Regions from separate parts of the Homo sapiens genome. Here all the other regions are reported to be linked to region 1. Evidence: microRNA targets listed by miRTarBase, many of them from high-throughput screens and not tested one by one. Region 1 holds a microRNA gene; each other region holds the end of a gene's coding sequence. Distances are between the middles of the regions.

Region 1 (3,113 bases):
GGGGGTGGGGATGGTAACTGGCACCATCTCTCTGCACAGATCCGCCGTCAGCAGCGCTGTCTGGGGAGGGGGCCACCCCACGGAAGGAGCCAGTGGTGGGAGGCACCCTGAGCCCGCTCGCCCTGGCCAATAAGGCGGAGAGTGTGGTGTCCGTCACCAGTCAGTGTAGCTTCAGCTCCACCATCGTCCATGTGGGAGACAAGAAGCCCCCGGAGTCGGGTATGGGTGTGGAATTGGGGGGCAGTGCTTGGGCTCCACCGGTCTCCCAGCTAGAGCTCCCTCCTGCCTTTCCCCTCCCCTCTAGGGCCTGATGGAGAGAAGGAGGCCTCCCTTGACCTGGGGCTTGGGGCTACTGCTTCTTGCTCTCCCCTCCCTGCCAGGCTTCTCGGCTTTGCCCTTCCCCTGTTCTGCTTCTCGTATTGTTACTGTCAGTTGAAACACAGAGTCTGGGATAGAGGGTTTGCCCTGAGGTGCTGACCACACAGGGTCTGAAGGCAAGGAAAATTGAACATCCCTGAAGGGTCTTTGGATATTGACCTTGAAAATCATGAGGGGCTGGGCATGGTGGCTCAGGCCTGTAATCCCAGCATTTTGGGAGGCTGAGGTAGGAGGATCACCTGAGATCAGGAGCTCGAGATCAGCCTGGGCAACATGGTGAAACCCTGTATCTACTAAAAATGCAAAAATTAGCCGGGCGTGGTGGCGCGCGCCTGTAGTCCCAGCTACTCGGGAGGCTGGGACAGGAGAATCGCTTGAACCCAGGGGGTGGTGGTTGCAGTGAGCTGAGATCGCACCACTGCACTCCAGCTTGGGAGAAAGAGTGAGACTCCATGTCAAAAAAAAAAAAAAAAAGAAACAAGAAAATGTGTGAGGGAAGGCCAAGGGGTGGGCTTCTCTTCCAATGAGAGTTGTGACGGGGTCATCCCAGTAGAGTTCCTGGCAGGGAGTGGCCACTGGAGGGGCCTGAGTATCGTCTCTTCTTCTGGGCCAGCTTTGCATGGAGAGGAGGACCCAGGGCCAGCCGTTGGCAGAGAGGTGACCAAGAAACGTACATGGAGACCAGGCTTGGCTGTGGGGCAGAGCTGCCAGGGGTTGGCTAGGCTATCAGACAGGGAGGGTGTGGTATGGATGTGTTGACCCCTGAAGTGGTTCTGATGACCTTTCCCTATCTCACTCTCCTCAGACATCATCATGATGGAGGACCTGCCTGGCCTAGCCCCAGGCCCAGCCCCCAGCCCAGCCCCCAGCCCCACAGTAGCCCCTGACCCAGCCCCAGACGCCTACCGTCCAGTGGGGCTGACCAAGGCCGTGCTGTCCCTGCACACACAGAAGGAAGAGCAAGCCTTCCTCAGCCGCTTCCGAGACCTGGGCAGGCTGCGTGGACTCGACAGCTCTTCCACAGCTCCCTCAGCCCTTGGCGAGCGAGGTAGCCACCTGGGGCCTCCTGGAGCCTGCCCTCTGCCCAGTCTAGGACTGGATTGTTGGGGGGTGGGTCTTAAGGGAGGTGTTTCTGCTCCAGGGACCCAGGCTGGTGTTGCTTCCACCACTAGGCCCTGCCTAGGGACAGGCCCCTCGCTAGCTTCTCCCCACTAGGATGGGGTTCCGGGCTGCAGCCAGAGGAGGGCAGCCTGGGGGGATGGCACTGGGATGGGCAGGCAGAGGTGCTGTCTCCAGGTAAGCGACTTCAGGCCTAGCCTGGGGGCAGGGGCAGGAAGTATGCCCACTTAGGAGTCAGTTGTCACTGATGAAGAGACATGCATAGATTCTGGGCCAACTCTGGGTGGGGTCTGGGCTTCAAGGGCAGGTGGAAGGCAGCCCCTCCAGGTGCCTGAGGGAGATCCCCTGCAGGCAGACGCAGGACTCAGGACTGGGCTTTCCAGCCCCACTCTTCACTCCATTGCAAGCTAGGCAGAATACGGCCTCGATGGGCAGGAGGAATGCCTAGGCTGGCAGTGCCCACAGGAGTTTGGCGGACCAGAGCCATCTGTCCATGTGTCCATGGACTCACCCTGCTTCCTCCATCTGCCAGCATGCCTCCATCTTCCGCACACCCCCAGCTCGACCCCTCGTGTAACCTCTCCCTGGCCTTGTTCCTTTCTCAATAAATCCCCTTGTCCCTGGCTCCTGTGATTCTTCCCTGAAGGTGCCCCACCTCCTGAGTCCCCCGTTCTGTGTGGGTTGAGAAGCTCTCTCTGGGACCTTGGCCTGTCCTCTCCCTGGTCAGCGTGTCAGGGCAGTGTGGGTAGCAGGGGTACTAACCCCAGGTTGAGGTCCTTGCTAACCCTAGTCTCTCCCCACAGGCTGCCACCACGGCCCCGCACCCCCAAGCCGCCGACACCACTGCCGATCCAAAGCCAAGCGCTCACGCCACCACCAGAACCCTCGGGCTGAAGCGCCCTGCTATGTCTCACACCCCTCACCCGTGCCACCCTCCACCCCCTGGCCCACCCCACCAGCCACTACCCCCTTCCCAGCGGTTGTCCAGCCCTACCCTCTCCCAGTGTTCTCTCCTCGAGGAGGCCCCCAGCCTCTTCCCCCTGCTCCCACATCTGTGCCCCCAGCTGCTTTCCCCGCCCCTTTGGTGACCCCAATGGTGGCCTTGGTGCTCCCTAACTATCTGTTCCCAACCCCATCCAGCTATCCTTATGGGGCACTCCAGACCCCTGCTGAAGGGCCTCCCACTCCTGCCTCGCACTCCCCTTCTCCATCCTTGCCCGCCCTCGCCCCGAGTCCTCCTCACCGCCCGGACTCTCCACTGTTCAACTCGAGATGCAGCTCTCCACTCCAGCTCAATCTGCTGCAGCTGGAGGAGCTCCCCCGTGCTGAGGGGGCTGCTGTTGCAGGAGGCCCTGGGAGCAGTGCCGGGCCCCCACCTCCCAGTGCGGAGGCTGCTGAGCCAGAGGCCAGACTGGTGAGCACTGACCCCTGCGTCTGCCTGCCAGCCCCCACCCCAGCCCCGCCCCTCTGCCACCCTGTGCTGCCTGCTGTCTCTGCCAGGCTGGCGTCTCAGCCTCCAGGAGGTGGAGGGAGTCCCCAGCTGAATTTCTGAATGAGGCAGAAATTGGCTACCTCCTCTTTGAAGGGACAGTCCTGTCTGTCTGACAGGTGGTGAG
Region 2 (3,113 bases), not on the chromosome of region 1:
GCTTCCCAAAGGGTTGGGATTGCAGGCATGAGCCACTGCGCCTGGCCTATTTGTTCCTTTTTATGGCTGAGTAGTATTCCATGGTATGTATATACCACAATGTCTTTATCCAGTTGTTGATTGATGGGCATTTGGGCTGGGTTTCATGTTTTTGCAATTCGGAATTGTGCTGCTGTAAACATGCGTGTGCAAGTATCTTTTTCATATAATGACTTCTTTTCCTCTGGGTAGATACCCAGTAGTGGGATTGGTGGATCAAACAGTAGTTCTACTTTTAGTTCTTTAAGGAATCTCCACGCTGTTTTCCATAGTGGTTGTACTAGTTTACATTCCCACCAACAGTGTAAAAGTGTTCCCTTTTCACCACATCTTCACTGACATTTATATTATTTTTTGATTTTTTGATTATGGCCATTCTTGCAGGAGTAAGGTGGTATCTCATTGTGGCTTTGATTTTTTAAAATAACTTAAGACTACTCACATTCTGACACTTAATTATTTTCTTTCTTTTGAACAACAAAGCTTGATGACCTCACACAAGATCTGACTGTATCCCAGCTCAGTGATGTTGCGGATTATCTGGAAGATGTTGCATAGACACGAAGAAGGAAGTATTCTAATTAACAAGGACAGAGGACTGACCGGTTCCATTTTTTTTTTTTCCAGACAATCACTCAGCTGGAATGTCTGCTCTCTATTGGTGCCTTGCATTTCAAAAACACTGCAGATATTTTTTAAAAGTAATTTTCATTTTACTAAACAAAATACTTCCTATTTGAGCCCATGTGTGGAAGATTTAATATTCTTAATTTAACTGTACATTTCTTTATGGAAATTGATTATCTACACTCAGTTTCATTACAGGGAAGGAACCCATGAAAACATCAGTGTTAAGAGCATGATGAAAGGTGTCAATAAAGCCGTAGGATCGCGCAACCCTTTGTGTGTGTGGCTGCTGGTACGTGTGATCTTTGAAAACCTTGGCTTTAGCCCTCTGGAATCAGAGCTTACCCACCATAGTATATTTTGATATTAGGTGGTTCTACACATAGTTGGCAAAATGACTTGGTAAATTTGTAATGCTGAAGTATATTAGTATAAGTTAAATTTGATGTGTCAACTTTATTTTGTATTTCCTTCCATTTGGAAGGTTTGTTAGACCATTAAGGTTATATTAAAGTACTCTTGTGTGTGCTATTTAGTTTTGCTTGTTTTAAAGAAATCTAGAAGTGGTTATGAGTTTTAATTCATAGAATTGTCAATAACATAACATTTGCAATCGTCATTCCTCCTGTTATCCATGTAAGCAGCTTTAGTCGTAGGTTCTCTTCATTATAATTTATTATCTGTAAAGATTCCTTGAAACTTAAATGCATCTGAAACCATTAAGCAGTGCTTTTATTTCAGATCTGTAAGTTAATTGTATTAAAATCCAAATTGGAATGAAATAGTAGTAATGGCCTAAGACCATGTTCAGTTTGACAAGCTTTATATACTGTACATAATTTCATTGTAACCCTTAAAAATAGAGCCAATAATAGAATTTCCACAGTCTCATTTATACGGTTAAAGCATTATTGCTATTATGTAGGTCACGGATGTTTATAATACTAAAGTATTTTAAAATGTGCAAGTAGAAAAAACAGTAGAAAGTGATGCATGCATATTTATATATAAGTAAAGCAGGATTGTGCTGTTTTTGCACTTTATAATTTCAATTAAGTTGCGGCTTTTTACTACAAGTTAACTTTATTAGTAAAAGGAGCAAATTAGACCTAATTCATTGATCTCGGTTAAGTGAGCAGACTGCATGACTTGTGTAATGCCAGTTTCTCATTTCATATTAGCCTAAATATTACAGAAATTACTCCTTGGGCTCTAAAATGTAGAGGAAATGAAAATGTAAGGATTAAGGCTGTGTAACAGAATCTGGCTTTTTAAAATTTAAGTGAAACTAAGCTGTAAACATCAAGAGGAAGTAGGACATAAACTGGGCCGGTACAGCCTGGGAGCCCTGTGTATTTCTGCCCTCCGTCTGTGAGCTGCTATCTCAGTCTCCTTCAGCTCTTCATGTCTTAGTAAACAGCACCACGTGCAGATGTAATCTTGTTGCAGTCCCCCAGTGTGGTTGTTATAAAATGCATTTCTTTGTAAGTCATCTCTGTAAACAGTCACTTTCTAAAAGCACTATAGTTCTGGTCCCCTGGAATCTGGATCACATGTATGATTTATTTTTAATATTTGATAGGAACTAGGTTTCAGTGAAATGATTTGAAAGCATAGCAGGATGTGGCTTTTTAAATTTATGAAACTTTCGAACAGTAGCAACTGAAATTTGTCACTTTTCTGTTACGCAGAGAATCAGACCTTTTGATAATATTTGGGAGGGTAAAAGAAATATGCCAAATATGAAACTTTTTTGTCAGCACTACATACATCTTTTTTTTGCGGGGGGCGGGGGGGACAGAGTCTCACTGTGTCACTCAGACTGGAGTACAGTGATGCGATCTCGGCTCACTGCAACCTCCGCCTCCTGGGTTCAAGCGATTCTCCTGCTTCAGCCTCCTGAGTAGCTGGGATTACAGGTGCACACCACCACGCCCGGCTAATTTTTGTATTTTTAGTAGAGATGGGGTTTCACCATGTTGGTCAGGCTGGTCTTGAACTCCTGACCTCGTTCCTGCCTTAGCCTCCTAAAGTGCCGGGATTACAGGCGTGAACCACCGCACCTGGCCAGTACTACATCCATTTTATTGAATGATTTTGAATGACTTAAAGTTCAACTATGAAAAAGCTTTCTTTTCACATGTACTTTTTGATTAGGTATTATCAACTTATGAAACTTGAAGATGTGAAGTGACAGGTTTTGCATGTGATGAGTGTTTTCTGTTAAAAAATAAATATTGAAATATTAACCCATTAAATACATTTTTATGGTAACCTATGTTTTACAGTGGAGTTTTAAAAATGCTAGGTCTTTCTTTCATTTTATTGATAACTACAAATGAATAAAAAGCATTTATTCTCTTTGTTGATATTCGGTTGTGCTTTTATACTTTATGTTGGATAACAACCTGTGGGCAGTTGTGTAGATGCCATTAGTCCCTGCCTCA
Region 3 (3,113 bases), 32 Mb from region 1:
CCCCACAAACCCTGAGGTGGGATCACCTAATGAGCGAGAGTCCAGTCATCCACAGCCAGGAGAGACAGGCGTGCTCCGTGAATGTCTCACTCCCTCTCTCCTCACATCGCACACGTGTTCACATGCCACATATACACACCACACAAATGCACACCACACAAATGCACACGCCACATATACACACCACACAAATGCACACGCCACATATACACACCACACAAATGCACACCACACAAATGCACACACCACATATACACACCACACAAATGGCACACCTTCCCTTCACACATCAAACAGGCATGCACACCCCCAAAAAGCCCATACACTCACGTTTCAGGTGTCACTGCGTCATACTCACATGCATGCACACACACATACTCCACAAATGCACGTATGTCACGAAGTTACACCCAGGCCATGCACACAGCTACTTCCAAGCCAATTTGGCTTTTTTGGGAGGCCCATGAAAGAAAAAGGACCTCCTACCACCACTGCCAAGGGTGCAAGCCTAGAGCATCGGGAAGGGGACTAGAGACAAGGGGGTTGAAAAAGATGCCTTAGGGAAAGAGATACTTTCCCTAAACTTGAAACCTAAAACTTAATCTTCAGCGTGCACCACCTCCCATCCCCACAGGCCTTGGCCTGGGCTCCAGAAGGAGGGGACTCTGTGAAGAGTGGCTGGGGCTGAGGAAGCAACCCTCAACACCACTTTGTTCTTTATCTCCTGCTGCTGGCAGCCGCCGTGGTGCCTCAGGGAGACCAGATGGCTGCAGGACTTTGCTGCTGGGGCAGAGCTAGAGAGACAGAACTGCAGACCCAGCCTCAAGATGCAGACGGGACAGGTGCCAACAAAGTTGGGGCCCAGTGAAATCAGAAGCCTGGAAGCGCCTCTGGAGCTGGGGAGGGGGCTGAGAATCCAGGACACAGCTAGATAGGAGGGAGCCCGCGCAGCGGGCGGCAGGCTCAATGCAGCGTCTCCAGACTGCCTGCAACCTCCTGGAAAAAGGCCCCCACCGAGAGATCAGCTTCTGCTCCCGGACCCTCCACCCCCTGCCACACACATGCGTGCACACACACACACAAGGCACAGAGGTGTGGGAGGGGAGGGGCATTTGGAGGATGGCCAAGAGTCCAGGCATACCATGTGAGCACAATCTCTGAAGCTGTGGCTGGCACTGAGTCTACAGCAAAGTCAACCCCTCCCAACCTCAGAATCCAATCTCAGCACAATGCCCGAGTCAGAGATCTCGGCAGTCAGAGCTGTGGAATGTGCTGAAGCATCTACCCCCTTTCCTCAAATGCAGGGCAGTGTCCCTGCCCCTCCCCAACAAATTAATAAATCAAATCCAGATGCAAGCCCAGTCCGCCCGATGCCCTAGGAAATGCCCCAGCCCCACATGCCAGCTGATCCCAGAGACAGCTCTGCCCCCACAGGGCTGTCCTTGGTCATGCCCCCCTTTCAGGAGCCATTGTTTGCCCACCAGGAGTCTAAGTAAAGACAGCGCAGACTTTGAAGCCAAGGAGTTCCCTAGGAAACTTCCGTTGCAGGGAAGAGGAAGGTGGATTGGCCGTCCTTCTGCAGTCCCTTACCATACAGACAGGTCTGGGGACCACACAATACTCACCTCCCAAAATCTGTCCCCGTCTCTCCACCCCTGGTGCATCCCTGTGTCTAACTGAGAATAAATCAACCAAACACAATCATCTGGACATTTTTTGGTTTTGTTCTGTTTTGTTAAAAAAAAGAAAAAGAAGAAAAGACATCATGGCCAACTGGTAGGTTCCTAAGTCTCCTTCCATCCAGTCAAGCCAGAAGATGCCCAGGGGAGTAGGGAGGTGTGGGGAGGGAGGTGTAGGGGAAGGAGATATGGAGAGGGAGGCAGAGCTACAGGGAGCGAGCCACTGGAAGGATAGGTTCATCCCGGTGACTTCATGGCTGTGACCACAAATGGGGTAGGGAACAGGACCCAGGAAGCCCCTCATCCCCTAGCACGTGGGTCTTCTCCATTAGGCACATTCAGTCCACTCTTGCATTCTTTCTTCCCACCCTGACTGCTCAGAGAAATGTACCCCACCTCCCTAGCCCTCTGTGCTTCAAGTCTTCCTTTGACCCCCTTCGCTCTCCCACAGCAGGGCTCTCAGCTGCCAGCCAACCAAGCAGATGGTGCAACAACCAGACCTAAAGGAAGGACCTGGGGAAGAAGAGAAAGGGAGCCTGGCAAGTCTGAGCTTTGGGAGTGGGTCTGGACCTCGTGACCATTACTCCATCTGCTACCCCACGCTTCCTTAGGCTCCCACCCTCTGGCTAGCTTGAGAGGAAGGACGATGGTCAAGGTACATGTCTCTTCTCCTCTGACTCTGGGAATGAGATTTTTCTACTCCCACAGGCTTGAACTCTCCTTATAGGAGTGTCTCCACATGCCAAAATCAGAGGAAGTCAGAATAAAACCTCCCAAGGCTGAAAACTAGAGCTGGCACGTAGTACATGGTCAGTAAATGTTTTTAGGTGGCTGGATGAGTGAAGGAATGAGTGAGTGAGTGAATCCAGGATCGATCTGGAAACACACCAGGGCTCAGACCTCTTGGGCTAAGTGCCAGTCTCAGTCCTCTTGGGCTGTGTAACACCAAAGAGAACACCCCAGGCTCTGGCTTACCCCAAGGGCACACCCATGCTCACAAACACACACACACGCACGCACACGCACACGTGCACACGCGCATTTGAGGGAAACTTCTGGGCCGCAGGCAGAGACAGGACTCAGACTCAGACTCCACTCTGGGTCAGCTCTGCAGCCTCCAGAGCACAGGAGTAGCAGGGGACGCTGAGTCCCTGGCCTGCTGGCAGGCCTCACTCTCGAAAGCTGTCAGCCAGCTGGTGGCAGTCCAGCTCCCCCTTTGGCTCCAGGCCCCCCGGAAGCTTCACCCCCGTCTTCCGGTCCACACACCAGCACTTGCCACGCTGCCCATCCAGAGCTGGGTGACACTGCCAAGAGAAGGACATGAGGGGTCAGTTCCGACGCAGGAAAAGAGACCCCAAGTGACCCACCCCAATCCCAGCCCAGCCCAGCCCCCAAGTCAGACGGTCGCTGCTTCAAGATGGCCTCTGAGGGTGG
Region 4 (3,113 bases), not on the chromosome of region 1:
AGATGGGGTTTCGCCATGTTGGCCAGGCTGGTCTTGAACTCCGGACCTCAAGTGATCCACCCGCCTCAGACTCCCAATGTGTTGGGATTACAGGCATGAGCCACCGTACCCGGCTAGTATGTATGTTTTTAGAAGATGTGATAATCTTTTCTTTTTTTTGAGATGGAGTCTCTCTCTGTCACCCAGGCTGGAGTGCAGTGGCGTGATCTCGGCTCACTGCAAGCTCCACCTCCTGAGTTCACGCCATTCTCCTGCCTCAGCCTCCCGAGTAGCTGGGACTACAGGCACACGCTACCAAGCCCAGCTAATTTTTTTTTTTTGTATTTTTAGTAGAGACGGAGTTTCACCGTGTTAGCCAGGATGGTCTTTTTTTTTTTTTTTTTTTTTTTTTTTTTTTTTAAGAGAAATGAGGATACTATAGATAAGCACCTATTAAAATTTAAAATGTTCACTTAGGTGTTTTCTTTAGCATGAGGTCTGAAGGGTTTATTAAATAAATACTTAAATGCTTTACTCCAAAGGTTTTAAAATAGTTTAATGAAAAAATAAATATAGTGTATGAATGATCTAAGTATGAGAAATAGCAAGGACAAAATAGCAAATATTTTTGTAGGGGAGAAGGAATCTGAATGTGTATGGAATATTAAGGAGAATAAGAAATTAATTTAACAGGGGCTGTGGCGGGGGGTGGGAGAACATGAGGAAAAATAGCTAATACATGCTGGACTTAATACCGAGGTGATGTGTTGATAGGTGCAGCAAACCACCGAGGCACACGTTTCCCTATGTAACAAACCTGCATATCCTGCACATGGATCCTGGAACTTAAAATTAAAAGAAAAAGAAAAAATTAAACAAAATGGTTACTTTTGGCCAGGCATAGTGGCTCACACCTGTAATCCCAGCACTTTGGGAGCCCGAGTGGGTGGATCACTTGAGGCCAGGAGTTCAAGAGCACCCTGGCCAACATGGCAAAACCATGTCTCTACTAAAAAGGAAATACAAAAAAATTAGCCGGGCGTGGTGGCACATGCCTGTAATCCCAGCTGCTTGGGTGGCTCAGACACGAGAATCACTTGAACCTGGGAGGCAGAGGTTGCAGTGAGCCAAGATGGCACCACTGCACTCCAGACTGGGCAACAGAGTGAGACTCTGTCTCAAAAAACAAAAAGTTACTTTAGTATATTTGGGCTTATTTATTTATTGAGACACGTCACTCTGTCACCCAGGCTGGAGTGCTGTGTCAGGATCTTGGCTCACTGCAACCGCTGCCCTCCAGATTCAAGCAATCCTCCCACCTTAGCCTCCAGAATAGCTGGGACTACAGGTGAACACCTGGCCCAGCTAATCTTTGCATTTTTTTTTTTTTTTGAGACGGAGTCTCGCTCTGTTGCCCAGGCTGGAGTGCAGTGGCGTGATCTCTGCTCACTGCAAGCTCCACCTCCCGGGTTCATGCCATTCTCCTGCCTCAGCCTCCCGAGTAGCTGGGACTACAGGCGCCCACCACCACGCCCGGCTAATTTTTTGTATTTTTAGTAGAGACGGGGTTTCACTGTGTTAGCCAGGATGGTCTCAATCTCCTGACCTCATGATCTACCTGCCTCGGCCTCCCAAAGTGCTGGGATTACAGGCCTGACCCACCGTGCCCGGCCATCTTTGCATCTTTTATAGAGACAGGGTTTCACTGTGTTCCCCAGGCTGGTCTTGAACTCCTGGACTCAAGCTATCTATCTGTCTACCTCTGCCTTCCAAAGTGCTGGGATTACAGGCGTGAGCCACCATGCCCAGCCTGGCTCATTTATAATTGTCTAGTTTCCAGTACCTGAGACCACAGGCGTGTGTCATCTTGCCAGGCTAATTTTTGTATTTTTAGTAGAGACAGGGTTTTACCCTGTTGGTCAGGCTGGTCTTGAACTCCTGACCTCAGGTGATCCGCTGGCCTCAGCCTCCCAATGTGCTGGGATTACAGGCATGAGCTAGAGCGCCCGGCCATATTTCCCACTTTGGTTTGGGCTTCTGAAAAAATAAAGGAAGACAATTCTTTCTGCCTATCCTTACTATGTCGTCCTCTGCAAGCTGTCGCCTCTGTATATAAGTACATCTAACAACACTGTCATGAAAAATCTATACCAGAGATATGATTAATTCCACCCACAACTGATGTATGTTTTCTGATTATATTTCTCAAGCCAAATATCTGCAACAATAACATGTATTGAAAGGTATAGAAATAAACAGATGGATAGACAGAAAAAGACTCAGACTGTCTAAGTAGTGAAGTTTGTGCAGAACTAGAAACAAAAATCCACCTGGGTCAGAGGTATAGGGTTAATTTCTCTTGCTGAGGCTCAGATTTCTCCTTCATGCATGTTTAATGGTCCACCTAAGTTCAACTGGAGGAGCATCTTTCTTCTTTGTTAACCAAACATGCCCAGGTAGAGCTGCTTCTCTTTTCTATGGTAGCTGCTGAGTTCTGACTGTGTCAGCTGGAGGTACCGCCGGACGTTGGCATCTTGGAAGATGATGGAGAAGCAATTAGAAACAGTTAGAGTCAGTTAAGACCATAATCATACCTTGTGGCAGGAGAGAATGTTAACATGCTCCCATTTTAAAATCTCTCCAAGATCTGAATATATCGCAACCATTCTATGCAATAGTAAATCTCATTAATTAATAACATTTGGAATTGAAAAAAAACAATCTCTGTCCCGGCTGCTAATTTTTATTTATTTATTTATTTATTTATTTTATTTATTTACTTACTTTTGAGACAGGGTCTCGCTCTGTCACCCAGGCTAGAGTGCAATAGCATGGGATCTCCACTTACTGCAACCTCCGCCTCCCGGGTTCAAGCAATTCTCATGCCTCAGCCTCCCAAGTAGCTGAGATTACAGGCATGCACCACCATGCTTGGTTAATTTTTGTATTTTTAGTAGAGATGGGGTTTCACCATGTTGGCCAAGCTGGTCTGGAACTCCTGACCTCGTGATCCACCCGCCTTGGCCTCCCAAAGTGCTGGGATTACAGGTGTGAGCCACCATGCCTGGACACTGGTTGCTAATTTCATAATGAAAGCAAGATTGATGAAGCAGTTATCATTAAAATAGAGCCTC

What was found. The annotated mature microRNA hsa-miR-6883-5p reads AGGGAGGGUGUGGUAUGGAUGU and lies in region 1 at 1,111-1,132, shown strand. An mRNA with a match to its seed (bases 2 to 7 or 8) in the 3' UTR can be bound and repressed. Matches are read on the target gene's strand: a 7mer-m8 pairs with bases 2 to 8, a 7mer-A1 pairs with bases 2 to 7 and ends in A, and an 8mer does both.
Region 2: miRTarBase lists CEP43 as a target of hsa-miR-6883-5p. The part of its 3' UTR that is shown has no 7-base or 8-base seed match.
Region 3: miRTarBase lists IGFBP4 as a target of hsa-miR-6883-5p. Seed matches in the 3' UTR shown: 7mer-m8 at 1,842-1,848.
Region 4: the mRNA of TTC9C is a reported target of hsa-miR-6883-5p. The part of its 3' UTR that is shown has no 7-base or 8-base seed match.

The regions. Positions count from the first base shown.
Region 1 is chr17:8,143,064-8,146,176 of GRCh38, reverse strand. It overlaps MIR6883 (microRNA 6883), which reads left to right and starts at 1,106; the gene lies at 1,106-1,183. It overlaps PER1 (period circadian regulator 1), which reads left to right. Exons shown (of 23, transcript NM_002616.3): 17 at 40-219; 18 at 1,184-1,426; 19 at 2,301-2,911.
Region 2 is chr6:167,039,382-167,042,494 of GRCh38, forward strand. It overlaps CEP43 (centrosomal protein 43), which reads left to right. Exons shown (of 13, transcript NM_007045.4): 13 at 523-3,113. The coding sequence ends at 597. Among named protein-coding and RNA genes, the nearest start is that of CEP43, 42 kb to the left of the region's middle.
Region 3 is chr17:40,456,319-40,459,431 of GRCh38, reverse strand. IGFBP4 (insulin like growth factor binding protein 4) reads right to left here. Exons shown (of 4, transcript NM_001552.3): 4 at 1,707-2,983. The coding sequence ends at 2,849. Among named protein-coding and RNA genes, the nearest start is that of IGFBP4, 14 kb to the right of the region's middle.
Region 4 is chr11:62,737,687-62,740,799 of GRCh38, reverse strand. It overlaps TTC9C (tetratricopeptide repeat domain 9C), which reads right to left. Exons shown (of 3, transcript NM_173810.4): 3 at 2,164-2,512. The coding sequence ends at 2,418. Among named protein-coding and RNA genes, the nearest start is that of TTC9C, 11 kb to the right of the region's middle.